4 linked regions of the Homo sapiens genome follow. The protein of the gene in region 1 interacts with the protein of each later gene in a pairwise test. Each region holds a gene or a part of one and is shown on either strand. Other genes may lie near its edges.

Region 1 (7,030 bases):
TCAAAAATATTCCCAAAAAATGGCCAGGCATGGTGCCTCACACCTATAATCCCAGCACTTTACGAGGCTGAGGCGAGTGGATCACTTGAGCTCACCAGTTCGACACCAGCCTGGGCAACATGGTAAGACCCTATCTCTACAAAAAATACAAAAATCAGCTGGGCAAGGTGGTGCACGCCTGTAGTCCCAGCTACTTGGGAGGCTGAGGTGGGAGGCTCGCTTGAGCTCAGAAGGCAGAGGCTGCAGTGAGCCAAGATCATGTCACTGCATTCCAGTATGGGCAACAGAGCAAGACCCAGTATCAAAAAAAAAAAAAAAAAAAAAAAAAATCCAAAAATTTGAAAAAAAAAAAAAATGGATTGTTTTGTCTGTGCTGAACATGTACAAACTTCTTGTCATTATTCCCCAAATAATACAGTGTAACAACTATTTACATAGCATTTACATTGTATTAGGGATTGTAAGTAATCTAGACATAATTTAAAGTCTATGGGAGAATGTGCATAGGTTATACACAAATATTATACTGTTTTATATAAGAGACCTAGACATCCATGAATTTTGGTATCCACGAGGGACCAGGAACCAATCCCCTGCAGATACCAAGGGATAAGTGTATTTATTAAGAGAGTTACTGCAAGAAATTGGCTTACATGATTGTGGGGGCTGGCTAGGCCAGTCTGAAATCCACATAGCAGGCCAATGTGGAACTCTCCAGAAACTGAGTGCAGCTGCTGTCCATCGGAGAAATTTCTTCTACTTCAGGGGAGCTCTGCTGCGCTCTTCAGGCTTTCAGCTGATAGATCAGGCCCACTCAGATCACCTAGGACAATCACCCTTACTTAAAGTCAACCAATTATTAACTTGCATCACATCCACAAAATACCTTGACAGCCATGCCAAGATGAGTGTTTGACTGAATAACCAGGACTGTAACTTAGCCAAACTGACAAATGAAACTGACCATCACAATAACCATGTCAGTAGTCTTTAAAAGCATTTTATAAATGTATTTCTCCATTCCCTTACTACAGAAATTCAGCATTCTTCCAAAATTTTGCTAATATAAGTAATGTTGGAATAAATAGAACTGAAGTGAACAATGCTATAGACTGAATGTTTGTGTCCCAAAATTCCTACGGTAAATCTTAATCCCAAGATATTGGGATGAGTACTTTGGGAGGTGATCAGGGCTCTGCCTTCATGACTGGAATTAGTGCCCTCATAAAAGATTTGAGAGAGTTCTCTCACCTCTTCCACCATTTGAGGACACAGCAAGGTAACTACGAATCAGAATGTGGGCCCTCACCAGACACTGAATCTGCCAGTACCTTGACCTTAGACTTCCAGTATCCAGAACTGTGAGCAATAAATTTATGTAGTCTATAAGCCACCCAGGCTATATTATTTTGTTATAGCAGCCTAAGTGGACTATGACAAACAACTTTGTATATTAAATCTTCATTCTTACATCTGATTATTTTACAGAAAGACTACTAGTAAGGAGGCTGCGCATAGAAAGAACTCCAAAAAACCTCATAGGATCCCCTTGAGTCTTTGGCTGAATACAAAACTGCACATGTGTAAAGTGCAACTCCATGAGACAAGTAGGAAACCTGGGTAACTGACATGGACAATCCCTAGAGCTGGGAGACGTTCAAGCCTCAACCAGTCAGAATGGAAAGACCTCACTAACAGCTGGAGCACTCAGAAGCCCCAAAAAGGCATGTCTTAGAAGACTAAGCTAGCTTTAAAATAAAAGTACCCTAGATACAGCTTAACAAAGCTGAAAAACAAGGCCAGACACATTGGTGCACACCTATAATCCCAGCACTTTGGTAAGCAAAGGTGGGAAGATCATTTGGGACCAGGAGTTCGAGATTAGCCTGGGTAACATATTAAGACTCCATCTCTACAATCAATTGATCAATCAATACAAATAAAAAACAAGCTTCAAAAAGATCATTCTGATCAGCAAATAAATTAATTGCCTGCAAGAACAAAACTCAACACTCAACAGAAGAAATCAAAACCCAGAGACTCGACAGCATAACATCCATTAATGTCTAGCATCCAATAAAAAATTATCAGACATTTGAAAGAAAAAGAAAATGTAACCCAAAATCAGGAGAAAACTCAATCCCTAGAAACAAACCAAGAAATCACAGAGATAATGGAATTAGCAGATAAAGACTTTAAACTATTGTAAGTATATTGAAGGATTTAAAGGAAAACCAAGGTAGAAATTGAAGCCATAAAAAACAATCAAGGGGAACCTGCAGGGCTAAAAAATAAACTATCTGAAATTAAGAAGTTACTAGATGAGTTTAACTACAGATTAGACACCAAAGGAGAAAAGACAGTAAAGTTGAAGACAGGTCAACAGAAAATATTCCAAAGGAAGGACAAAGAGAAAACAGACCTCCTAAGTGTGTGTGTGTGTGTGTGTATGTGTGTGTGTGCTCAAAAGTCTCCCAATAGTATAAACACAAGGACTATCATGCATGAGTAAATCTTAATCAAATTGCTCAAACTAATGATAATAACTTCAAGGAACTGATATAACAAGAGAATGGGGATATTTCACACACAGGGGAACAAAGAATGTCTACTCACTTCTCATCAGAGACAGTGCAAGCTAGAAGACAATGGAATGATAGTCTTTAAAATGTTTGAAGAAAAACAAAAACAAAAAAAAAGTGTCAACCTGCAATTCTATATCCAGCAAAAATATCCTCAGAAATGGAAGATGAAATAAAGGCATTTTCAGACAAAAAAGCTGAAAGAATTCACTATCAGCAGATCTGCACTATAAAAAATATTTTAAAAAGATCTGCAAGGAAATATCAGATGTCTGCCTTCCACCCTATACTCCCCACTTCCAATCTCTAAATCCTTATTTCACCCCTTCTCATCCAGAGCTCCATATTCAAGAGCTGCTCCCCTTCTCCATCAGCTTGGTTCTGCCATCAAACAATTGTTTTCTTCGAACTCCATTAGTTAGCCTGGACTTTAAGACTCTGCAATCTTGCCCCTCCTGTCTTTACAAAACTTATTTTCTCTTACTCCATATTTTATAAGCCATTCCAAGTTGTTCACTTTGCTTCATTAACTAGAAAAAAAAACAAAAACTCCCCCACAGCCTAGGCAATACAGCAAGAAAATATTTTTAAAATTTAGCCAGGTATAGTGGCAGACATCTCTACAAAAAATTACAAAATTAACCAGATGTGGTGGTGCATGCCTATGGTCCCAGCTACTCAGGAGGCTGAGGCGAGAGGATTGCTGGAGCCCAAGAGTTCAATTCATATATTGCGCTATGATCACACCACTGCACTCCAGCCTGGCCAACAGAGTAAGATCCGGTCTCTATTAAAAAGTGTGCACGCACACACACAATCTCCCCCAAAACACGTCAGAAAGAGAGTAAAGGAGTGAGAAAAACAGAAGAGAACTCAAGGTGGCAGGGATTTGGGGGCACACAGGTGACCCATCCTATCAAGGAGGGAAGAGAGTGAATTTTCCAAAAAAACAAAGCAGGCCAGGAGGCTCGTGGCTGTCTTGCAGACACTACTACAACTCCCACACAAGAAGGGATCAGCTCCTCTCACTCAGACTGTAAGGAAGGACTGTATAACTAAGTTTAGAGCACCCACAAAACATAACTCCTAAAAAGTGAGTACAAGTACATAAAGCAAGAGGCTTGATTCAGGGAAACCTCATGTCATATTCAAGCTCTACTGCTCATTAGCTGCTTGACTATCGGCTCATTTAAAATTCACAACAGCTCTATGAGACAGGTACTATTATTATCACCTACATTTTATAGAGAAGAAAACTGAGACACAGAAAGGTTATACTGCTTGTTCAAGGTAATACATTCAGGAAGCGGCATAGCGAGGATGTGAATCCAGTCACCTAAAACAGACTGTCATTTCAGGTGTCCATTATACCTCAGGCATCATGAGCAAATCCTAGCAGTGCTCCTGCAGAGAGAAAAACACAAACAATCGAGCTGCTGAGGCTAAGCCTCTAAACACAGATAAAGTTAGGTCTTTGTGAGAGGAGTCAAGTGCTCTAATTTTGGCTCTGGATCTCAAATGGTTGTATGACTACTGACCTTACCAAATGAGGGAACTGACCTTAAGCCAACTGACCTCCCATCCTACATAACTGAAAGACTGTAATGCAGCAGTTTACAAACATGAAGAGCTAAATAAATACTGAGATCAAGAATTAATGTGTTACAAAGTAAGAATAAATTATGGAGAAACCCAAACACCAGATGTTACGCAAGAAAGAAGGAAGCTGCAAAGTAGAAATTCCCACCTGGGAAGAATTGGTGGTTCCCTAGGGACTTCAGCAGCACCAGCAACTGCTCCTGGAGCTTCTGCCTCCTGTGAACCATGGGCCATTTCCTTCACAGGGCCTGGAGGCTGCACTTTCTCTACTTCCTGATGCCCATCCAATTCTGTGGTGGAGTCAATCTCTATTTCCTGGACTGGAACTGGGACTGGCTCCTTCTCAGCTGCAGCAGCTGACACAGTCTTGGCCTCTTCCTCTTCCTTTCTTCTGATTTTCTCTTCAAGTTCCTGCCTTCTCTTCTCATCATCCTGACGGGCCATGTGGTCAAAGGTTTTGAATACCTAAAATCAAACACCAATCCAGCAATCAGTTCATCTGCCCAATACTGTACCACATATCTTGTAGAAATGTCGTAAAATCTGTGAAGGAGAGAACTAAAAGTCAGAAACTGACAAGTTTTCCCACTGGCAAAATGGAAATGCACTGCCACTTCACCAAAAGCTGACAGGTAAACAGTGTTTAACAGGAGGATTCCAAAATCAACAAAATCAGAAACTTATAAGCCAAGGCTAACAATATTTACATACCTAAAAGATGTACAGTTAGATGGTCTTTGTTGTCATTATTTTACAGACCCCAGTCTTGTTCACAATGCAAAGAATACACGGTCCTGGTACAACTGTGGGTTATAAAGGCACCAAAATTCAGACTCACAAATGAAACATGAAAATATGGCTGAACTTCAATTCCCAAAATGGAACCAGGTTTACAGGACTGCTGCTGTTTTTCACCACACTGCATGGACATTCAATTCAACAAACATCTACTATGCGCCTACAGTGTGCAAGAAACACGCACGCACAAAAAACATCAAAATGATTTCTGCTGCCTCCTAAGAACTCAAAATTCTGGTGTGTAAACAAGTTCTTAACATTTTCTGGGAAACAGTCACACCCATGAAGGTGCTGGGACCTCTCTACCAAAAAAGTACAGTCAAGACATACCCACACATGAAAACTCTGATACAAGAGGGGGCATGACAAGGCCCTCAATTCCCTGTCAGGGTATGGGTGGGAATGAGCATGTCTGGCGAAAGAAATCTAGGGAGACTTCTTGGAACAAGGAGGATCCCAGTTAGACCCTGAATGAGAGGCACATCTTCCACAGGGAACCACTGGAGGAAATGCCACAGCTCTAAGAATAGGCTTGTCAAGGAAGGGCAAAAGCTCTTGCAATAACTGGAGGAAGGAAAGGCTGAGACAGCAACCTGGGACATGGGTGGGAGTCAGATTCCAAAGGGCTAGAATGCGGACAGGTATTAAATAACAATGTTCTGTGCACTGCGCGGGCAGTCAAAAGGGTGCTAACAGACTAACTGTGTCAAATTATTTTACAAACATTCTCTCAAAACCCTCACAAAAATACTGTGAAGAAGACAGCATCAACATTTCAAAAATGAGAAAAAAATAAGGCTTGGAAAGGTTACGTAACTTGCCCCAGCTCCTGCTGGCAAAAGAAGTAAAAAACTACGCAGCACACACCAAACAGTGTGGGGAGATGATGATGTAGGCAGAGGGGAAAAAAAAAAATCAATAAAATCCTAAAAGGTTAAAAACTGGAAACAACACCAGAACCATTTTTACTTCTGCAGATAACCTGAAGCCCTGACTTCATTCTAACATTAGGGTCTCTACCGCTTTGAGTCCATGCTTTCAGAGTTGCTCATCCTGCTGATACTCCAGATCTTCATCTTAACTCCACAAAAGCAAAGCAACAAGATCTCTCTCTCCTAACACCTGAGACTTCGAACACAGAACCCCCAGACTTGATAGTCCTCACCATGCAGCTGCCTCTGCTCACTCAGTACATCCAGCCTTCTCTGACCTACCCATTCACACCACCAGGAAGTGCTACCACTGCCAACCTCCCAACTATCACATGTTCTCAGTACTCATTCTAGAGTCACAGAACATAGGGCTGGAAGAGAACTCTAATCTGTAACCTCCAATCAATCTTCTCAGCTGACAAGAGGTGAAGTGACTCTCCCAAGATTTCTCAACAATTTATGTAAGGAACAGGATGTAGCTAGCTTTCCTGATTCTAGTTTCAAGGACTTCTACAAAGGAGCACTTCTCAAAGTGGACTCCAAAAAAAACAGCATTATCGATTATAATGAATGGCTTGTCAGTCTAAACGATTTTTGTCTTAAAACATACTAATGTATTATAAAATGGAATGCAATTTTCACATACATCATTCCTGCTGAGGTTCTTCAAGCTGTGTATCCAGGCTATGCAAACTTTTAAAAGGAAACGTATGAGCTGCCTAACTCTACACCAACACTGTACTCCCCAAAATATTAAGGGAACGCTTTGAAGTTCCACAATGATGCAGCCCAGCACTCCCATCCAAATTCTTCTCTGCCTATATTCAGCAGAGACACCAAGCATCCCACATCTGGTGGGGGTGGAGAGGCAGACCCCAGGAAGGAGTCTTATGCCATCAAGTTAGGGACAGAAAAAAAAAAAAACCCTAAGAGGCAGATGAGTAGGAGTGGGGAGGTCAGGAGATCACCTACTACCACGAAGAAATAATGTTATGCTGGTACCAAGTCACTCAGTCTCATTCAGTGTTGTCCCACCCCACAATAAAACCCTTGTCAATACTGAAATCACCTTTACAAACCTCCTGTCAAATGAGCTTTTGTGGATAAAAGAACAGGTTC
Region 2 (6,872 bases), on another chromosome or scaffold:
TTGTGCCATTACACTCCAGCCTGGTGACAGAGCGAGACTCTGTCTCAAAAAAAAAAAAAAAAGGTAAAACACAGAGTTTGTTAGATAGGAGAAAAATCAAACAGGACTGAGGACAGGGAGTTGATGTCGGGGGACCTTGGGCTTGCCCCAGGACCACTCCGTGGTGACTGCCTGATGGGGCAGACACTGTCCCCAGCCTAAAACCACAGGAACTTGAAGCCCTCCCCCAAGGCTTCACTTTCCTCCTCCATAACACCTGGGGATTGTAAGGGAGGCCTCCAAGCTCTGACCTGAGGGTGTGAGCCCTGCAGCTGGTCTGAAGTGGGAGAGCAGGTGGCGCGGGCCCTGCCTCTAGGAGAGCCGTGCCAGCTGTGGGCCAGATGGTGGCCAGGCCCGTGGATGCTGCCTGCTATGTCCCTGCCTGCCGGCTCTGCTAGACCACAGGTCATCATTACTGGATGAGGCGTGTGCAGTCACCGGCGTGGGCCCTCCAGGTCCTCCACTTGTCTCTGCTCCATGCCAGTGATAGTGGCCTCTAGAGCTCAGGCCAACAGCTCTGGCAGAGGTCACTGGCCTCACTCTGCCTCACTCGACATCCCATCTGTTCCATCTCTTTTTGGTCCCACCTGCAAAGTGCATCTCAACTAGGACTACCTCCCACCCCTCCATGTCTGTCACCCTGGGATGAGCCCTACCCATTTTTCCCTGGATTATATGCCTCCTGACTCATGTCCCAAATTCAAGATATTGTCCCCCAGTTGTCAGACACTGTTGAACAGTCAGACACTGTAACACTGTTAAATTGACACTGTTAAAACCAATGTCAGCTGGGTGCAGTGGTTCACGCTATAATCCTGGCACTTTGGGAGGCTGAGGCGGGCAGATCACTTGAGGTCAGGAGTTCGAGACCAGCCTGGCCAACATGGTGAAACCCCGTCTCTAATAAAAATACAAAAATTATGCTGGGCACAGTGGTTCACTCCTGTAATCCCAGCACTTTGGGAGGCCAAGGCAGGTGGATCACTTGAGGTCAGGAGTTTGAGACCAGCCTGTCCAACATGGTGAAACCATCTCAACTAAAAATACAAAAATTGGCTGGGCGTGGTGGCACATGCCTGTAGTCCCAGCTACTCGGGAGGCTGAGGCAGGAGAATCACTTGAACCTGGGAGGCGAAGATTGCAGTGAGCTGAGATTGTGCCACGGCACTCCAGCCTGGGTGACAGAGTGAGACTCCATCTCAAAAAAAAAAAAAAAATTAGCCAGGCATGTGGTACATGCCTGTAGTCCCAGCTACTCAGGAGGCTGAGGCAGGAGAATGGCTTGAACCCAGGAGGCGGAGGTTGCAGTGAGCTGAGATCGCACCACTGCACTCCAGGGTGGGCCACAGAGCAAGACTCCGTCTCAAAAACAAAACAAAACAAAACAAAACAAAAACCCAGTGTCAATTACATTGCCACTGCTTACAAGCCCCCTCTCCCTTCTCATTTCATGCAGAGGACCCCAAAAATGATCCCCAAAGCCCTCTGTGACCTGAAGCACCTCCTGTTGCCTCCCACCCATTCTCCTCCCCTCTCCTCTCCCTCTTCCTAATTTTTCTCTGCCAGGCCACTCTCTAGGCACGCTCCTGCCCCAGGGACATTGCACTGGCTGCCCTGTGCTATGTGATCGTGGAGGACAGATCACACAGTGTGTCCAAAGTGCAGTGAGTCTACAGCACACTATGTGTGTGTGCACAGCCAGGAGCCCAGAGAACCTCTTCTTTCTTATCTTCAGCTGTGTGTCTTGTGTGTCTGACATATGGGTCAAATCTGGATGTTTATGAAGTGTGCGTGCATATGGACACCATTGATTTCAAATGTTATTTGTGGCGGGTGTGTCAGCTGTAGGTCGCTGCTGAGTGAGGTTTGATGCCTGCATGTGGTTCGTCTGGAACAAAGACTCCTGGGGCGGTGCTGACTTAGGGCAGGCAAGGGTGTGTGTGTGTGTGTGCAGAGCTTGCCGGAACGTGAGCTGTTCATGCACGCGTGCATTCAACATTTGCAGAGTGCTTACTGTGTATTGGAGATGCCAGCAGTTCCCTTCAGCACTTGGTATCTGTCAGCTTGCACAGGGTCATCTGAGAGCATTTTGTGTAACGATTGAGCACGTATTGTTGTATCAGGCCCTCTGTTGGAGATGCTGGTTGAGTGCGGTCCAACCTGCAGGAGTCCACTCAAGCAGGCCCCTTCCTTCCTCCTATGGGGTCTCCAGCCCCATAGCCACCTCCTTCTTCCAGCACTGACGGGAAAGAAGGCTTTGAGCTCCTTCTGGATCACTGCTTTCTGCCCAAGACTGCACAAGTCAGAGTTTTCTGACTTGGAGGTTAAAAGAATAAATGAGCTCCAAGCTACAGAGGGGATCCTGGGAGCCTGGAGCTTACCAGAGATGGGGGGTGAGGGGTGCCCCCAAAAGGTCTAGATGCTTCATAGACGCCTATAGATGCAGGACTTTGAGCCCTGGCTGAGGGTCAGTGTGTTGGGAGGGCTGGTGCTTGGGGATCTGAGGGTGTTGGGTCCGGTGGAATGGACTTTGGGAGTGTAAGGTTTGAAGGATCTGTGGGCAGGGATTTGGGGGAGTGGGAGATGAGTTTTGAGTAGAGAATGGGAGATAATTGGATGTGCAGGGTTTTAGAGTATGAGAAACCAGAATTGGTGTATGAAGCAGGTGGTGGGAACCTAAGGCCAGATGATTGGGGTCTCAGGGTGGAGGCTCTGAAGAGGGTATGTCAGGGGAGGGTGGGGAACCATGAGGGGCTGGAAGTCTGAGGCCTGGGCATGGGTGAGTTTCGCCCCTGAGAGAGGCCTGGGAAGGAGGTAAGACTGGAGTCGGGGTGTGCAGGGTGGGGAGAGGGAGGGTGTGGTTCTCAGAGCTTAGAGACCCATTTCTCCATGCTCCATCTCACCCTCCCTCCCACCCTACCTATAACTCACTTCCCTGTGGCTCCAACGCCTCAAAGTATAACCACGCCCAGCCAACGCCCGGGGCACGCCTGCCAGCGCCCCAGGGCACTCACAGACACTCCTTAACACCTGCACGTGCCCCGCCCCTCCTCAGATCCGCCGCTCACTTAGCCCGGCCCCACCCCCATCAGATGAGGCTCCGCCCCCCCGGCCCCGCCAATCCCTCGCCCCCTCCACGCACACACCCCTGATCTTCCCCGCCCTCCTTCCAACCAGACTCCACCCCTCGCCCAGGCCCCGCCCTTCCTCAGACCAGGCCCTCTCTTCGCTTGACCACATCCATCCCCAGATTCCTCCTCTCTCCTGCCCAGACCCGCCCAACCTCAGACCCATCTTCTCCTTTCTACCTCCCCGACCACTCCCCCACCGCATTCCTAACCTCCACCTTGTCCCTTCTCACACCTGGCCCCGCCCTTTATCCTGCGCCCCGCCTCCTCCGCAGGCCGGACCCTTGTCCCTCCTCCTCTTGCCCTGGGCCTGCCCCTTCTTCAGACCCCGCCCCACTCCTCAGCCCAGGGACCAACCCCATCCTGCGCCTACTTGTCCTGCTTCGCCCCGTCCCCACCTATCCACAGACAATACGCCCTCTCAGCCCAGAACCGCTTCCCTTTCAGACTTGGTTCCGCCCCTCACGCCAGGGTCCCGCCCCAATCCGGCACCCCTAGCCCAGGCCCCGCCCTGGACCCACCTCTCTGCATAGCAGGCCCCTCCCTTTATCCCAGACCCGCCCCGGCCCTCCGTAGACCACGCCCCTCCGATTCCGGGCCCGCCCCAATCCTTGGTTTCTGGTCCCGGCCCCGCCCCTCCGCAGACCTGGCCCCGCCCCGCCCCCCGCGTCTCGGTTTCCCGGGCCTGCGCGCGCGGCTCCCGTCACTCGAACGCGCGACGGCGGGGGGAAGATGGCGGAGTCCGGCGGTAGCAGCGGTGGTGCTGGTGGCGGCGGCGCTTTCGGCGCGGGCCCGGGCCCCGAGCGCCCGAACAGGTGAGACCCGGCCCGCAGGATAGACCTGCACCTGTCTTGGAGCCCAGGAAACCTGTGGGCAGTCTTGGGCGTCCTGAGGGGTTGAGGGGAGGCCTGGCACGGCTCGAGGGTCTTTCGCTGAGAATTTGGACTTTACGGGGCCGTGGGGTACTGGAGGAGCCGAGGGCTACTGAGGGGGTGGCTGGAGGGGGGCTGGGTGCCCCAGGACCTCGAGGCGTCTGCAGGCGGCCCTAGGGACCTGAGAATCCTGGGGGTCTGAAGGGAAACCGAGGGGCTCTTGACTGTGGTGGGCCGTGGGGCAACTGGGGATGCCAAAGGGCCTGGGCAGCAGAGAGGGCCTGAGCAGGGGCCATGCCATGGCCAGTCTGAGGGTGGTGAGGTGTCTTGGGGGCTCTGAGGAAGGGGCTAAGGCCCAAGGCATCCTGGGAGGTGCTGAAGGGCCCCAAGGTGGCTAAAGGTGGTCCTGAGAGCGTGCTGAGGGGCGCTGGAAGGAGTAGAGACTGTGGGAGGCTCTGGGTGGGGGACTTAGGTGAATCTGGGAGTCTGAGATGGGGAGGCTGAGGGGGCCTGGGGTGGGTCTAGGGAACCTGAGGGGGGTGAGAGAACTCCAGGGGGTTTATAAAGAACATACAGAGGGTTCTTCTTTGGGGCTCCTCCCTTCCATCCCCATGGGGTCCAAATCCACATCCCCAACAGGCTAAAGGACTTACAGAAAGGTCTTGCCCTCAGACAAGGGGACAGAATTCACCCCTTTGGTCAGAGGGAGGCCCCCTTTCCCCATGGCCCAGTCCTGACATGGATTGCTTGAACGTCCAGGTTTGCATGACAATTAGTTATCATCAATAACTAATGATATGTGTGTGCATGCATTGTATTGGATTGTCAGAGGGAAAGAACACCTGCCTTAGGAGTGTGATCTCCTGCTCTTTTCCTATTGGGCAAAGCCAGACCCTCCCACCCCAGCTCCTCCTCTAGCCCAGCACCCAGGTCAGGCCAAGGAGGAAATTCAGGCTTTTTCTTGCTGGTGAGCTTCCAGGAGCCAGTAATTTCAGGCAACATGATAAATGATGAAGTTGTTTGATACTTACGTGCTGTGGAGTTTTGGACCTGTGGGCTGATTGTTGGAGGGAATGGCCTGATGGCCTGGCTGTGTGATTTGGTACTGAATGGAACACGCATGGGATGGGTGGGGAAGGGAGGAGGGATGGCTGGGCCAGGGCACAGAGGAGGCAAAGGCCCTGCCTGTTCCTGAGGATGCTGAGTGGCACCTTGAGACTTAGGTCTGTGGGCATTGAATCTGGTCTGCCAGAGGGGCCATGGGGAACCCAGGAGGTGTGTGTCCAGAGGGGTGACCAGCCTCCTGGGGTAGGTGTGGGGCAAGATTGTCCTGCAGTAGGGAGCCAGGAGATGTCAGAGGATTTTCAGAGATATTCAGGGAGTGGCCAGGGCTTGAAAATTGGGTATCAGTTGGCAAGTAAGGGACAGGGAAGAGGGACAGTGAACCCCAGGTCCCTGCCTTGGGCACTGGAGTGGGATAACCTGGGGCTAGGGCTTTTTTTATTTTTATTTTTTTGAAACCCCGTCTCGCTCTGTCACCCAGGTATCTAGGCTGGAGTGCAGTGACGCCACCAAGGCTCACCGCAGCCTCAAACTCCTGGACTCAAGTGATCCTCCCACCTCAGCCTCCTGAGTAGCTGGGACTACAGGTGTGCACCACCACACTTGGCTAATTTTTAAATTTTTTGTAAAGACCAGGTCTTGCTCTGTTGCCAGGCTGGTCTCAAACTCTTGGGCTCAAGCAATCTTCTTGCCTCACCCCTCACTAAGTGCTGAGATTACAGATGTGAGCCACCATGCTGGGCATGGCTCTTTTTTTATAAACAGCTTTATCAAGATATAATTAATTGCATGGCATACAATTCACTCATTTTGTTTTTATTTATTTATTTATTTTTTGAGACAGAATCTTGCTCTGTCACCCAGGCTGGAGTGCAGTGGCGCAATCTCGGCTCACTGCAACCTCTGCCTTCCAGGTTCAAGGGATTTTCCTGCCTCAGCCTCCTGAGTAGCTGGGACTACAGGTGCCCGCCACCATGCCTGGCTAATTTTTGTATTTTTTAAGTAGAGACAGGGTTTCACTGTTGGCCAGGCAGGTCTGGCATTCCTGAGCTCAGGTGATCCACCCGCCTCGGCCTCCCAAAGTGCTGGGATTACAGGCGTGAACTACTGCACCCAGCCAATTCACTCATTTTAATTTATCATTAAGTTTTTTTTTTTTTTTTTTTTTTTTTTGAGATAGAGTTACTCTGTTGCCCAGGCTGGAGTGCAGTAGTGTGATCTCGGCTCACTGCAACCTTTGCCTCCTGGGTTCAAGCAATTCTCCTGCCTCAGCCTCCCGAGTAGCTGAGACCACAGGTGCATGCTACCATGCCCAGCTAATTTTTGTATTTTTAGTAGAGACGGGGTTTTGCCATGTTGGCCAGGGTGATCTTGAACTGCTGACCTCAAGTGATCTGCCCGCTTCAGCCTCCCAAAGTGCTGGGATTACAGGTGTGAACCACTGTGCTCAACCCAGGTCATTAAGTTTCAGTACATTTACTGAGTTGTGCATCCTTCACCACAATCCAGTTTTTTGGAATGCTTCCATCACCCCAAAGAGTTCCCCCAAGCTCGTCTGCAATTAACCCTGCTCCACCAACATACAGCCCCGGGGACATCCTGATCTGCTTTCACTCTCTGTAGCTTTGCCTTTTCTAGAAATTTCGTAAGAATGGAATCAGACATGTGGCCTTTACGTCTGGTTTCTTTCCTTAACATAATGTTTTTGAAGTTCATCTGTGTTGTTGTATCAGAAATTTGTTCTTTTTCACTGTGGAGTGAAAATAAACAA
Region 3 (5,958 bases), on another chromosome or scaffold:
CATCTTGACCCTGGGCTCTTTTTCTCCTCTCCTGCAGGTACGACACCATCACCAACCAATGGGAGGCGGTGGCCCCTCTGCCCAAGGCAGTACACTCTGCTGCAGCCACAGTGTGTGGCGGCAAGATCTACGTGTTTGGTGGGGTGAACGAGGCAGGCCGAGCTGCCGGCGTCCTCCAGTCTTACGTTCCTCAGACCAACACGTGGAGCTTCATCGAGTCCCCAATGATTGGTGAGAACCAGCGGTGTCCTCAGCCCAGGGCCAGGGTCGCATCCCTGCCTTGCTGATTTGTTCAGTATCCCATGCCCAGAAGTCAGGCTAAGCCCAACAGCTCTGCAGACCCAGATCTAGAGGGTGGCAGGAGTTGCCGAGCCCCCAGCTCAGGTGTCTGGAGAGGGGCAAGTGAGTCAAGGCTCCAGGTTCCCCTAGGCCCCGGACCCATCCCCAGGCCAATCAGTCACTTGTTGGAAGTCTTTCGAGCTTCCTTCCCTGGAGGGTCTTCTGGGAAAGAAAAGGAGAGGGAAGTCCAAGACAAGCTGCCGTGACCTGCCTGCTCTGCTCTCCTCACAGACAACAAGTATGCCCCCGCTGTCACGCTCAATGGCTTCGTTTTCATCCTGGGCGGGGCTTATGCCAGAGCTACCACCATCTACGACCCTGAGAAAGGAAACATTAAGGCGGGCCCAAACATGAACCACTCTCGCCAGTTCTGCAGGTGAGAGGCTGCGGCGCCTTGACTAGGGCTGGGACGGAGGAGTGGGAGGAGGAGGGGTGTGACCACAATGATTTCCTGCCATCAGTGACCATAGCAATTCCCAGGCCCAGAGCAGTGGCCCTCCCCCTCCAACCACAGGAGTGGGCATTAGCCCAGACCAGTAGGGTGGAGCCCACGGCAGCCTCTGGTCCAGGAGCCCAACCCCGGGGCTCCAGCTGGCCCCAGCTCCAGCAGAAATGAACCATTTCCTGAAGGCATCAAGGCTACCCTGCTCTCAGTGAGAGGTGAGGTCAGCTTCCCCCAGGACCACCTGCCCCATCACAGACAGAAGGCAGTGCCAGGCCAGAGCTGTGTGATGCCCTACAGGGACAAGTGACTTCTTGGGGGAATGCTCTGAGGACATGAACGATCCTGATGGCTTTGGGAGCTGTGCTCAGAGTCCCAAAGGCTGACTGGGCAAAAGCACACACAAACCCACCCCTGCAGGCAGAGAAGGTAGAGGGCTGAGTGTGGCTCGGTCCCCAGGCTTTCTGGCCCTGTGGCAGCGAGACACCAGTCCCTGCTCTTCCAGCCCCATCCTTTCCTGGACTAAGAGGAACAAGGAATAAAAAGGGGCCCCAAGGCCAGGTGCAGTGGCTCACACCTGTAATCCCAGCACTTTGGGAGGCCGAGGCGGATGGATCAGTTGAGATCAGGAGTTCAAGACCAGCTTGGCCAACATGGTAAAACCCCGACTCTACTAAAAATACAAAAATTTGCCAGGCGTGGTGGCATGTGCCTGTAATCCCAGCTTCTCAGGAAGCTGAGGCAGGAGAATCGCTTGAACCCGGGAGGCGGAGGTTGCAGTGAGCCGAGATCGCGCCACGGCACTCCAGCCTGGGTGACAGGAAAAGACTCCGTCTCACAAAAAAGAAGGGGCCTCAGAAACCTCATTGTCAGGACTCCCATAGCAGATGCTTCCTGAAGACATCTTGTGCCTATGTAGAGGTAACTGCAGAATCTTCAGTGTGGGAATAGCATGAAGTACTTAGAGTGCCCATTGTTTGTGTAGCATAGCTAGAAAAGATATAACCTCCTACTAGCATGTCAGTGACCTTGGACATATCCCTTCACCTCTCTGAGGAAGTTCTATCTGTGAAACAGGCGGTTGGACCAGACAACTGCTAAGCTCCTGTTGGACTGAGATTTCACAATTCTTGAGCCATACTTCCATGTCATGTACCCTAATGGTGGCAGTGTGCAGAGCACAGTCTGACTACCCCGTCCACTGATGCAGACAACTGGAGCATTGCGCTCCACTTGGGAGGATGCTCGCACCTTCTCTGAGACTAGAAGTAAATGGGAAAGGGCCAGGCACAGTGGCTCACGCCTGTAATCCCAGCACTTTGGGAGGCTGAGGTGAATGGATCACGAGGTCAGGAGTTCAAGACCAGCCTGACCAACATGGTGAAACCCCGTCTCTACTAAAAATACAAAAATTAGCCAGGTGTGGTGGCAGGCGCCTGTAATCCCAGCTAACTCAGGAGGCTGAGGCAGGAGAATTGCTTGAACCTGGGAGGCGGAGGTTGCAGTGAGCTGAGATCACACCACTGCACTCCAGCCTGGTGACAGAGTATGACTCCGTCTCAAAAAAAAAAAAAGAATGGGAAAGACTTAACGGCAAATGGCAGAGTTAAGCTGGGTCTTGCAAGATAATCAGGTAATAGGTGCACCACAGAAGGAAAATATGAGGGCCCCAGATGGCATGAACTAAGGGAGAGAAGACTGGAAGCTTCAGGGTCTGGTAAGAAGTCCAGACTGATGTGTTCTCTTTAAGAGATTTCAGAAACGGGTGGAGCCTTTGAAAAGGTATGTGTCCAATGTCAGGGAATAGCCAGGAAGAAATGGCCATTAGCTGAAATGAAAGAGTGTCAGGGCTAGAAACAAGGATGTGGACGTCAGTGCAAAGAAGTAGCTGAAATGCATTAAGGGAGTCAGTGCAGAGAGGGGCCAGATGCTGAGCCCTCATGATGAGAGGAGCTGACTGAGACAACAGGAGCAAGCCAGTGAGTGTCACACAGGGAAGGGGTCCAGGCACAGCCATCGGTCACCCTGCAGAGCATGCCCGGCCCTTGCAATCCTGGGTGGGCAGCAGCACCAGGTCACACAGAAGCACCTTGGCAGGTGGAGCTCCCAGTCAAGTGGCTGACATTCAATTCCAGCTGAGCTCCTTATTATTCTCTCTCGTCATTCTTGTGAGTCATGTTCCCAATTTGATTTGAGCAGTAGGAAGGCTGCGTGTGCCACACAAGAGCCTCCAGAAAGCCTCAGTGACCTGAGCTGAGTGCCCGCACAGAGATCTTTCGTCTCCTAGCCATGGTTAGTCACTCTGGCGGGGCAGGGAGGGAGCGCCTTCTGCCGCTCGCAGGGTGGCATAGCACGGCTTCCTGACTGGCCCTGGAGGACAGGTGTTTTTCTTATGCCAGCCCAGGTTAGAGGGCAAAGAAGGGCAGCAAGATCCCAGATGCCTTCTGCAAAAGGCACAGGCAGCCTACAACAGGACACGACGTTGAGAACCTATCTCCAGGGCCAAGTTGGAAGTGAAATGCCTAACTCTGTCCCCGCTTTCCCCCAACAGTGCTGTGGTGCTTGATGGCAAGATTTATGCAACTGGAGGTATTGTCAGCAGTGAAGGGCCCGCGCTGGGCAACATGGAGGCCTACGAGCCCACAACCAACACATGGACCCTCCTCCCCCACATGCCCTGCCCTGTGTTCAGACACGGCTGCGTCGTGATAAAGAAATATATTCAAAGCGGCTGACATCAGCAGAAAGCCCACGATAAGACTGTGGACAAGTCTGGTGAGGCAAGTGCCACGCAATGATAATTTTCCAGCGACACCAACAAGAGGCCAACAAAACACAATCAAGGAACTCACTGCGCTCAACATGTTGAATATTCTCTACATTGAATGTAGAAAATCATCCTCGCCTTTGGATGAAACGGAGGCACCGCGCTTGGAGCCGCAGGAACCACGATCCCGCCATGGGGCTGGCTGCCTCCTGAACAGGGGCGCTCGCTCTGCCAGGTGCAATAGAGTTTCACGTATTTTTCAACTGGGAGAGAGAAGCTGTTTTTTCCTTCCTGCAGAGCAAGCTTGATCCCTAAACAACCATAGATCAGTTATCTTATGACAACATTAGGCATCAGGCTCTCTTGGAATAAGATCAAAGTGTCCTTATCACTTTGATTCCTACTTTTGTTTTTTAACCGATCTACACTTTCAGTGGCCGACAGAAAACGAGGGACAATACTGTGCATCACAAGGCCTAGGAGGCTGCTGGTCCCCACTGGGGCTGAAGAGAAGCCCAGCTGCCCACGCGGAGCCAGGGGTGGCAGCTGTGGGACAGCCGGGGAGCAGGGACAGCGGTCTGTCCTTCACAGGTTTTTCTACTGTGTTTTTGCTGGAGAAGGACAGTGATTGCGCTAGCTTTCTCTTACCCGGTATGAATTATTTAGATTTCTGAGGCATTTTCTTGATAAACAAAAGGCTATTTTTAAGTACTGAGAGGAGGAGCAGGCCACAAGAGGGATAATGTTGTGGGAATTCCCAAAGCTCTTTGTAGGTAGTGCCAGAGGGGGGCTTTTGCTCTCATTTTTCTATGTGCAGAATAGAGGATCTCTCCTGGGGTGGGCGATGCCCCCATTTTATTTTTAGAAAAAGTAACTCCCAGACAGCCCCATAAAAGCTGTGCCCAAGGAAGAAGAGTCTGCTCTAGAAGGAGCCCGGTTCTGGCTCAGGACACCGGCCCAGCTCCCTCCATGAGGTCAAGCTGAGGACCAGGCCAGTGGGAAGGGAAGGAGGGAGAATTAGCGTCTATAAAGCACAGGAGACTATTTTTGATATTCATAGCTATATATTAAGGCACCTGCCACAAGAGCTCTCAGGATGGGGACAGCCTTCTTAGTGGAGCCATGGCAGCAAGGCCTGAGGGCATGAACAGAACCACTCTTCTTGTCACATACGAACCTGAGAAAAGGGAAGCCAGGAGGGAGGTCACACCATGGCTCAAAAGGGAAAGGCCTTCCCACTTGTCCTTAGCCCCTCAAACCTCACACGGTCAACAGTTTCCATTCCAGGGCAGGAGAATGCTGCCGCCACTGCGCTGTTGAGTTGAAGTTGGTACCAAATACACATTTACCACTTTTATATCTGGGAAGTCAACTTGCCATCGTTTCATGATAACAACCATTTATAAGAGAAAAAGACAGGACACGCTTTCCATCGTTCAGTATTTGATGACACAAAATTCCAGTTCTAACGTTGGGCATCAACTTCTAGCACTACGAGTGTGGCTCCCACTTGGACAAGATACCGAGCTTCGTTATGCAGTTTTTAATATTATTTATTATTTTAAAAAGTAATAAGCACAAAACTACATACATTGTATGTCATTTAAAGTATTTATGTCAAACAGGGTGCAAGTGTGAACCCAAGGACTGGAGCACAAATTCCTAACTGCCTGGGGCAGGGCTAATGTTAGCATTGGTGTGCGTCTGCCTCCAAAGGAGGTTCTAGTTGTCAGCGAGACTCAACACAGATGACATTGAAATTCGTTTCTCTCCTCATCTATCACACTGGAGCAAAACTGGCTATTTCTGTGAATGATATAAAACAGGGTTCTCTGTAATGGTATTGTACATAGTATATGTTTACTGTTAAGTTCTTGTTATATTATAATAAATATATTTATAGATCTAGACTTGGAAGCCAACGTAATCTTTGTGTGCCATCGTCCTGCCACAGGGATGCAAAACCTGTTCTACCCCTCATACATCAGCTGTATGGGTTCTCTTATAGACTTTAGTGCAGAACTTAATGATTAGAAAGGATGGGACTCCATATTGAGGGAAGGTTTAGAGTTGAAAAGCCAAGAAGACAATTGAAGGTAAAAGTTGAAAGGGACTTGCAAACACGCTGGCACTGGCTCTGAGGCTCTTCCTTTCATTGAAGTGCTCTTCTTATTACACTTGTGCAACTGAAAGCTTCAAAGCTGTTAGCTTCCCACTGGTATCACTGCTGTGCCAGGGACCCACTTAGAGCCACATGGCAAGTCCAGCTCATGAGCCTAAGAGGAGACACAACACACTTTCTCCAGGAAGAGGAATACAGGGTGATTTCTTTTCTTTTCTTTTCTTTTTTTCTTTTTTATTGAGATGGAGTTTCACTCTTGTTGCCCAGACTGGAGTGCAATGGCGCGAT
Region 4 (7,030 bases), on another chromosome or scaffold:
AGACCAGTTTTGGATCAGGAACAGGTCCAAGTGGGGTGGGAGTAGGGTTTGCAATGGAATAAGTGGGGAGGTTGTAGGAGTTGAGATGGTCAGGGAGTTTTGACTTACAGTTTTTGGATGGCTGATCTTATGTGAACATTGAAGAGGTGTGAAAGATGACTTAGCCAGGTGTTGAAGTCTTTTTTTTTTTTTTTTTTTGAGATGGAGTCTTGCTCTGTTGCCCAGGCTGGAGTGCAGTGGTGCGATCTTGGCTCACTGCAGCCTCCGTCTCCCAGGTTCCAGCGATTCTCCTGCCTCAGCCTCCCAAGTAGCTGGGATTACATGTGCCAGCCACCACACCCAGCTAATTTTGGTATTTTTAGTAGAGAGGAGGTTTCTCCATGTTGGCCAGGCTGGTCTTGAACTCCTGACCTCAGGTGATACACCCTCCTCAGCCTCCCAAAGTGTTGGAATTACGGGCGTGAGCCACTGAGCCCGGCTTTTTTTTTTTTTTTTTTTTTTGAAAATGGAACCTCGCTCTGTCGCCCAGGCTGGAGTGCAGTGGTGCAGTCTTGGCTCACTGTGACCTCCACCTGCTGGGTTCAGGAGATTTCTCCTGTCTCAGCCTCCGGAGTAGCTAGGACTACAGGCGCCCGCTACCATGTGCGGCTAATTTTTGTATTTGTTTTGTATTTTATTTTATTTATTTTGAGACGGAGTTTCACTCTTGTCGCCCAGGCTGGAGTGCAGTGGTGCAATCTCAGCTCACTGCAACCTCCGCCTCCCGGGTTCAAGTGATTCTCCTGCCTCAGCCTCCCGAGTAGCTGGGATTACAGATGCCCGCCACCATGCCTGGTTAATTTTTATATTTTTAGTAGAGATGGGGTTTCACCATGTTGGCCAGGCTGGTCTCAAACTCCTGACCTTCAGGTGATCCACCCATCTCGGCCTCCCAAAGTGTTGGGATTACAGGCATGAGCCACCACGCCCGGCCTTTAATTTTTGTATTTTTAGTAGAGACAGGGTTTTACCATGTTGCCCAGGCTGGTCTTGAACTCCTGATCTCAAGTGATCCGCCTGCCTCAGCCTCCCAAAGTGCTGGGATTACAGGTGTGAGCCACCATGCCTGGCCCAGGTGTTGAAGTCTTCATCAAATGTTTGAGAGTGATTGATCAGAAGATGTGTATGGAAGTGACAAGGGGTGACAGAAGATGGATTTTTATCTGAGCAAAAGGCCAAGTTATAGAAAAAGAACAATAGAAAGCTAAGAGAAAGAAGACTTGGAAAGTAGGGCTGTAAGCTCTAAAAGTTTTTTTTTTGTTTTGTTTTTTTTTTTTCTAACACGCGTGGGAGTAGAGCTAGAGGTTGGAGGCAGGAGGCCTGGAAGCTGTGACTTTTAGGAAAACTATGTCTCATTTAAATCAGGTCGAGGAGGGAACTTTCTGTGACCAACCTGAGCATGTAGGGGATTTTGTTTACATTGAAGTAAGGTTCCACAGGGCACAGTGGAAAGGTTTGGGAGAGAATTCAGGGATGGAGGATGGGTCATTGGGGAGGAAGCCGGGAGCTGTGTAAGGATGAGAATTAAGAAGATAGATGGTCTGGGGTGGGGGTATGTGAAAAGGAGAAAATTAATTTGCTTCATAAATAACCCAGTAGACTGAATTAGTGGCCAGGCGCAGTGGCTCACGCCTGTAACCCCACCACTTTGGAAGGCCGAGTCAGACGGATCATCTGAGGTCAGGAGTTTTAGACCAGCCTAGCCAACATGGCGAAACCTGTCTTCACTAAAAATACAAAAATTAGCTGGGCGTGTAGCAGGTGCCTGTAGTCCCAGCTACTCGGGAGGCTGAGGCACAAGAATCGCTTGAACCCGGGAGGCGGAGGTTGTAGTGAGCCGAGATTGTGCCACTGCACTCCAGCCTGGATGACAGAGCAAGACTCCGAAAACAAAAAAATAGACTGAATTAGTTTATTCCGCTGTATTTAAGATATCTAATTATAGTTCTCTATTTTACCTTCATTTCTCTGATATGGAAAGATTTGGTTTAATTTCCTTTAAAATTATATATTTGTATTTTTAAATATATAAGCATTACATCATTATTGTTTTTCAAAGTAAGGGTAATGAGGTAAATGAAAAGAAAGCCTCTCCTGAAAACCTACTACCCAGGGACATTATTTTGGTATATATTTCTCCAGACTTTTTCTCATCTAACAAATATATGCGTATTTAGTTTTCGAAGACGTACTCAGTATACTGCAGTCACTTGTTTTTTTTTTCATACAATATCTGATAAATATTCTTTGTAAAAATAAACTGTTGACATCATTTTAAATTGATAATTTATTGTAGGACTGTATCATGTTTTAATAATTTGTTATTGGACTTTTGAATAGTTTCTGATTTTTAAATAATAAGCCTAGATAGAAAAACCTTATATGTACAACTTGCCTATTTATTTGAATATTTCCTTTAGGTAAATTTCTAGGAGTTTTCAGGTATACTTTTTAGTTTCATTTTTGTCCCTTTTCTCATTATTTAGTATTTGGCTGTGAAATCATTTTTATGTTGCTAATTTTGGAACCTGTTCAAAGTATATTTGATGAACAATATGAAATCAATGGAATAGGCATATATTATTTGTAAGATAACAATTTACCATTGTTTGATATATATATATATATATATATATATATTTTTTTTTTTTTTTTTTGGAAATGGGGTCTTGCTGTCTCCCAGGCTGGCATGTAGTGGCATGATCTTGGCTCACTGCAACCTCCGTCTCCCGAGTTCAAGCGATTCTCCTGTCTTGGCCTCCTGAGTAGCTGGGACTATAGGTGCATGCCACCACACCTGGCTACTTTTTGTATTTTTAGTAGAGTTGGAGTTTCATCGTATTGATCAGGCTGGTCTTGAACTCCTGACCTCAGGTGATCCACCCACTTCGGCCTCCCAAAGTGCTGGGATTACAGGTGTGAGCCACCGCGCCCAGCCGACATATATATTTTTAAGAGATAGGGTCGTGCTCTGTTGCCCAGGCTGGAGTGCAGTGGTGCTATCATAGCTCACTGTAGCCTCAAACTCGTGGGCTGAAGGGAATCTCCCACCTCAGCCTCTGAAGAAGCTGGGGCTGCTGGCAATGTGCCACCATGCCCAGCTACTTTTTTTTTTATTGTTATTATTTTGTAGAGACAGGGATTTGCCATCTTGCCTAGGCTGGTCTCCAACTCCTGGGCTCAAGCGATCTTCCTGCCTTGGCCTCCCAAAGTGCTGGGGTTATAGGCATGAACTATTGATGTATCTTTAATAGATTCTTTTCCTTAGATAGGGAAGCCAGAAATATTAGTCTGCAAACCTTTAGATTGTCTTCTCCCAAAGGACTTGTACATTTTGGACTTAGTCAGTAGAATTGAGATAATAGCAAAAATTGTTAAAACTCTAAGTTAATATTTTCTTCTGAATGCATGGAAGTGTTTAACATTGTTGTCTTTGATTTTTTTCCAGGTGATTCATGGCAGGGGACGTGGAAGGATTCTGTTCCTCCATCCACGACACCAGTGTCTCTGCTGGGTTCAGAGCACTGTATGAGGAGGGATTGCTTCTTGATGTCACTCTGGTTATTGAAGATCATCAGTTCCAGGCCCATAAAGCACTCTTGGCCACCCAGAGTGATTACTTCAGAATTATGTTTACTGCAGACATGAGGGAACGAGATCAGGACAAAATTCATTTAAAAGGTCTAACAGCTACCGGTTTCAGCCATGTCCTGCAATTTATGTACTATGGAACTATAGAGCTGAGTATGAATACCGTTCATGAGATTCTTCAGGCTGCCATGTATGTTCAACTTATAGAAGTGGTGAAGTTCTGCTGCTCTTTTCTCTTAGCGAAGATCTGCCTAGAAAATTGTGCAGAAATTATGAGACTCTTAGATGATTTCGGCGTAAACATCGAGGGAGTCAGGGAGAAGTTAGACACCTTTCTGCTAGACAACTTTGTGCCACTCATGTCTAGGCCTGACTTTCTGTCCTATCTGAGCTTTGAGAAGCTCATGTCTTACTTGGATAATGATCATCTGAGCAGGTTCCCAGAGATAGAGCTGTACGAGGCTGTGCAGTCTTGGCTGCGGCATGATAGAAGACGCTGGAGACATACCGATACCATCATTCAGAATATCCGGTTTTGCTTGATGACCCCAACCAGCGTTTTTGAGAAGGTTAGTGCATTTGAAAGCAATAGACAGTACTCATCATTTAGTTAAGGCAGTGTATGTCTTTATAGATAAGATTCACAGACTTAAGAGCCAAGAATGAATAACTTCATTTTGTTATTTCTTATGTTATTCAAGAATGAATAACATAAGAGTACTTTATGTATAAGAAGCCTGATTTGTTGTGCATTTAGGTTTTGTAAAATACATTTTGTGGGTGAAAGATAAACCACGTAGGTAGTAAAACAGTTTTATTTTAAAAGTACTTTTAAAGTTGAAGCATAATTACTTTATGCAAAATATTACATGTTTGCTGTAGCTTTTCTTTTCATTTCATCAATTAAATCGGAACCGAGTCAGGCTAGATCTCTTTTTAAAAATAAATTTAAGTAATACATGCAGAAATTGGCATTGAGAAGAGTTCTGCATGGTATACATTAATAGAGTTTCTTATTCCTCTAAAATATAGCAAGGACGTACAAAATAGCTCTTGAAAACCAATAGGCCCTAATGGTGATTTTCTTCCCTGCTCTTACCTTCTGGTTTTCCCCGTTTTACTGTGAATACTAACTAAATTTGACAATGAAAACATGTTATATGTCTAAAAACATCATTTTGGCATTTCTAAACAAGTAGACTATAACTCTTCTATCTACATTGATCAACCATCCCTGGGCACATTTTACCATGCAAATAGTTCTCTTAAAAATAGTCTTTCTCTGAAACAGCCTTGGCCTTTTTTTGCATGTAAGCATTTTCATTTTTATATCAGAGTTTCACTTGTGATCCTTTCTTGCCCAAAGGTCATAGAGCACTTTTAGTAATTGCTTAACTTAATTGGTTTCTAATCACATGGTTACCTCTGGGGCTCTGTTTACTTCTTGCATCTTCTCTTTTTTCTAGAAAGCACACTGAAAACTTGGTCGGTCACTTTTCATGTTAAATAGTTCCTCAGCTTTAGTTATTAGACCTGGTTATAAAAATACAGTATCTGCAAAGGAGGGTTGTCTACGCCATTTGAAAAATAAACCCATTTGCGCCTTTGAATAACAGCAGCCTGACATATTTTTTTTTCCTCCAAAATGCTGTGAAACTGAGAATTCAGTTTTGTGGATTTTTGTCTTTTATTCTCAATGTATTGATGTGGCAGAAATAATTGAAACTAAATTATATATATGTATGTATGTATTTTTTTTTTTTTTTTTGAGACAGAGTCTCGCTCTGTCGCCCAGGCTAGAGTACAGTGGCGTGATCTTGGCTCGCTGCAAACTCTGCCTCCCAGGTTCAAGCGATTCTCTTGCCTCAGCCTCCCGAGTAGCTGGGATTACAGGCGTCAGCCACTGTGCCTGGCTAATTTTTGTGTTTTAGTAGAGACAGGGTTTCATCATCTTGGCCAGGCTGGTCTCGAACTCCTGACCTCATGATCCACCCGCCTTGGCCTCCCAAAGTGCTGGGATTACAGGCGTGAGCCACCCCACCCAGCCAATAATGTATTTCTTTTATTTTTTGTTTAGTGATAATCAGCCCCACATCAATTATGTAAATCATTTGTCTCTGATGTTTTGATTTTTTTCCTATTGTTTTTATTGCTCTTTTTCCCTGGGGAATCCTGTTTTGTTTTGTTTTTGTTTGTTTTGTTTTGTTTTGAGAGGAGTCTCACTCTGGCCCTGGAGTGCAGTGCTGCGATCTCAGCTCACTGCAGCCTCCACCTCCTGGGTTCCAGCAATTCTCATGCCTCAGCCTCCCGAGTAGCTGGGATTACAGTTACCCACCACCATGCCTGGCTAATTTTTTGTGTGTGGAGATTCTTAATTCTTCCTTTGGTAGTAACAGATTTGAACAGTGACTTAATAGTGTAGGGAAGGGGGCATTCTGCCTCAACCCAAGGAAAAGCCCCCATTCGTTCTAGGGACACAAGTCATGTCCTCTAGCTGTGCTGAAATCTTTGGGTTTATCCTTCTGCAGTATCTATGTAGTCCTCTACTGGATTTTCTCCTTAGGTGAAGATAAGATTGTCTTAACTTTTTTTTTTTTTTTAGTATACTTTTTTCTTTTTTAATATTTAACTTTTTTTTGTAGAGATAGGGTCTCACTGTTGTCCAGGCTGGTCTTGAGCTGGCCTGAAGTGATCCTCGTGCCTCGGCCTCCCAGAGTGCTGGGATTATAGATGTGAGCCACCGTGCCTGGCCAGATTGTCTTAATTTTTGTACTAAGTATTCTGTGGGACCATCATCGAAGAGGCCAAGGCTTCCAAATTTCCTGAGTTCCTTAGAGGCAGCAATACTGTTTATCTGAACACTGCATGTGCACACGAGCACACACACACACACACACACACACACACACATATATTTATGCTAGGTCATGTACTAAGTGCTCTTACCGTACATATAGGTAGCATCTACATGGTTTTTTTTTGTTTTTTTTTTTTTGGTTTTTTTTGAGACGGAGTCTCACTCTGTTGCCCAGGCTGGAGTGCGGTGGCACGATCTAGGCTCACTGCAAGCTCTGCCTCTCAGGTTCACGCCATTCTCCTGCCTCAGCCTCCTGAGTAGCTGGGACTACAGGCACCCGCCACCACGCCCGGCTAATTTTTTTGCATTTTTTTTTTTTAGTAGAGACGGGGTTTCACTGTGTTAGCCAGGATGGTCTTGATCTCCTGACCTCGTGATCCGCCTGCCTCGGCCTCCCAAAATGCTGGGATTACAGGGGTGAGCCACCGCGCCTGGCCATGCATCTACATGTTATCCCCATTTTATAGATAAGGAAACAGGCACAGAAAGGTTAAGGATCTTATTCCAGACCAAGTGGCACTGTCCAGACTGAAAGCCAGGGCA

The links.
Region 2: the proteins of NUDCD3 (region 1) and KLHL26 interact in binary tests that used the Homo sapiens proteins (3 or more experiments, as listed by UniProt).
Region 3: the proteins of NUDCD3 (region 1) and KLHL29 interact in binary tests that used the Homo sapiens proteins (3 or more experiments, as listed by UniProt).
Region 4: the proteins of NUDCD3 (region 1) and KLHL15 interact in binary tests that used the Homo sapiens proteins (3 or more experiments, as listed by UniProt).

Annotation. Positions count from the first base shown.
Region 1 is NC_000007.14:44,480,639-44,487,668, forward strand, and holds part of NUDCD3 (nudC domain-containing protein 3), read right to left. Parts: intron 4,647-7,030; coding exon 4,330-4,646; intron 1-4,329.
Region 2 is NC_000019.10:18,633,156-18,640,027, forward strand, and holds the start of KLHL26 (kelch-like protein 26), read left to right. Parts: upstream 1-3,872; 5' UTR 3,873-3,899; coding exon 3,900-3,982; intron 3,983-6,872. UniProt on the Homo sapiens protein: May play a role in endo(sarco)plasmic reticulum (ER/SR) mitochondrial signaling. May be part of the ubiquitin-proteasome system (UPS) and affect ubiquitination and degradation of target substrates in cardiomyocytes.
Region 3 is NC_000002.12:23,703,149-23,709,106, forward strand, and holds the end of KLHL29 (kelch-like protein 29), read left to right. Parts: intron 1-37; coding exon 38-231; intron 232-570; coding exon 571-715; intron 716-3,332; coding exon 3,333-3,516; 3' UTR 3,517-5,458; downstream 5,459-5,958.
Region 4 is NC_000023.11:24,003,158-24,010,187, reverse strand, and holds part of KLHL15 (kelch-like protein 15), read left to right. Parts: intron 1-3,487; 5' UTR 3,488-3,494; coding exon 3,495-4,199; intron 4,200-7,030. UniProt on the Homo sapiens protein: Substrate-specific adapter for CUL3 E3 ubiquitin-protein ligase complex.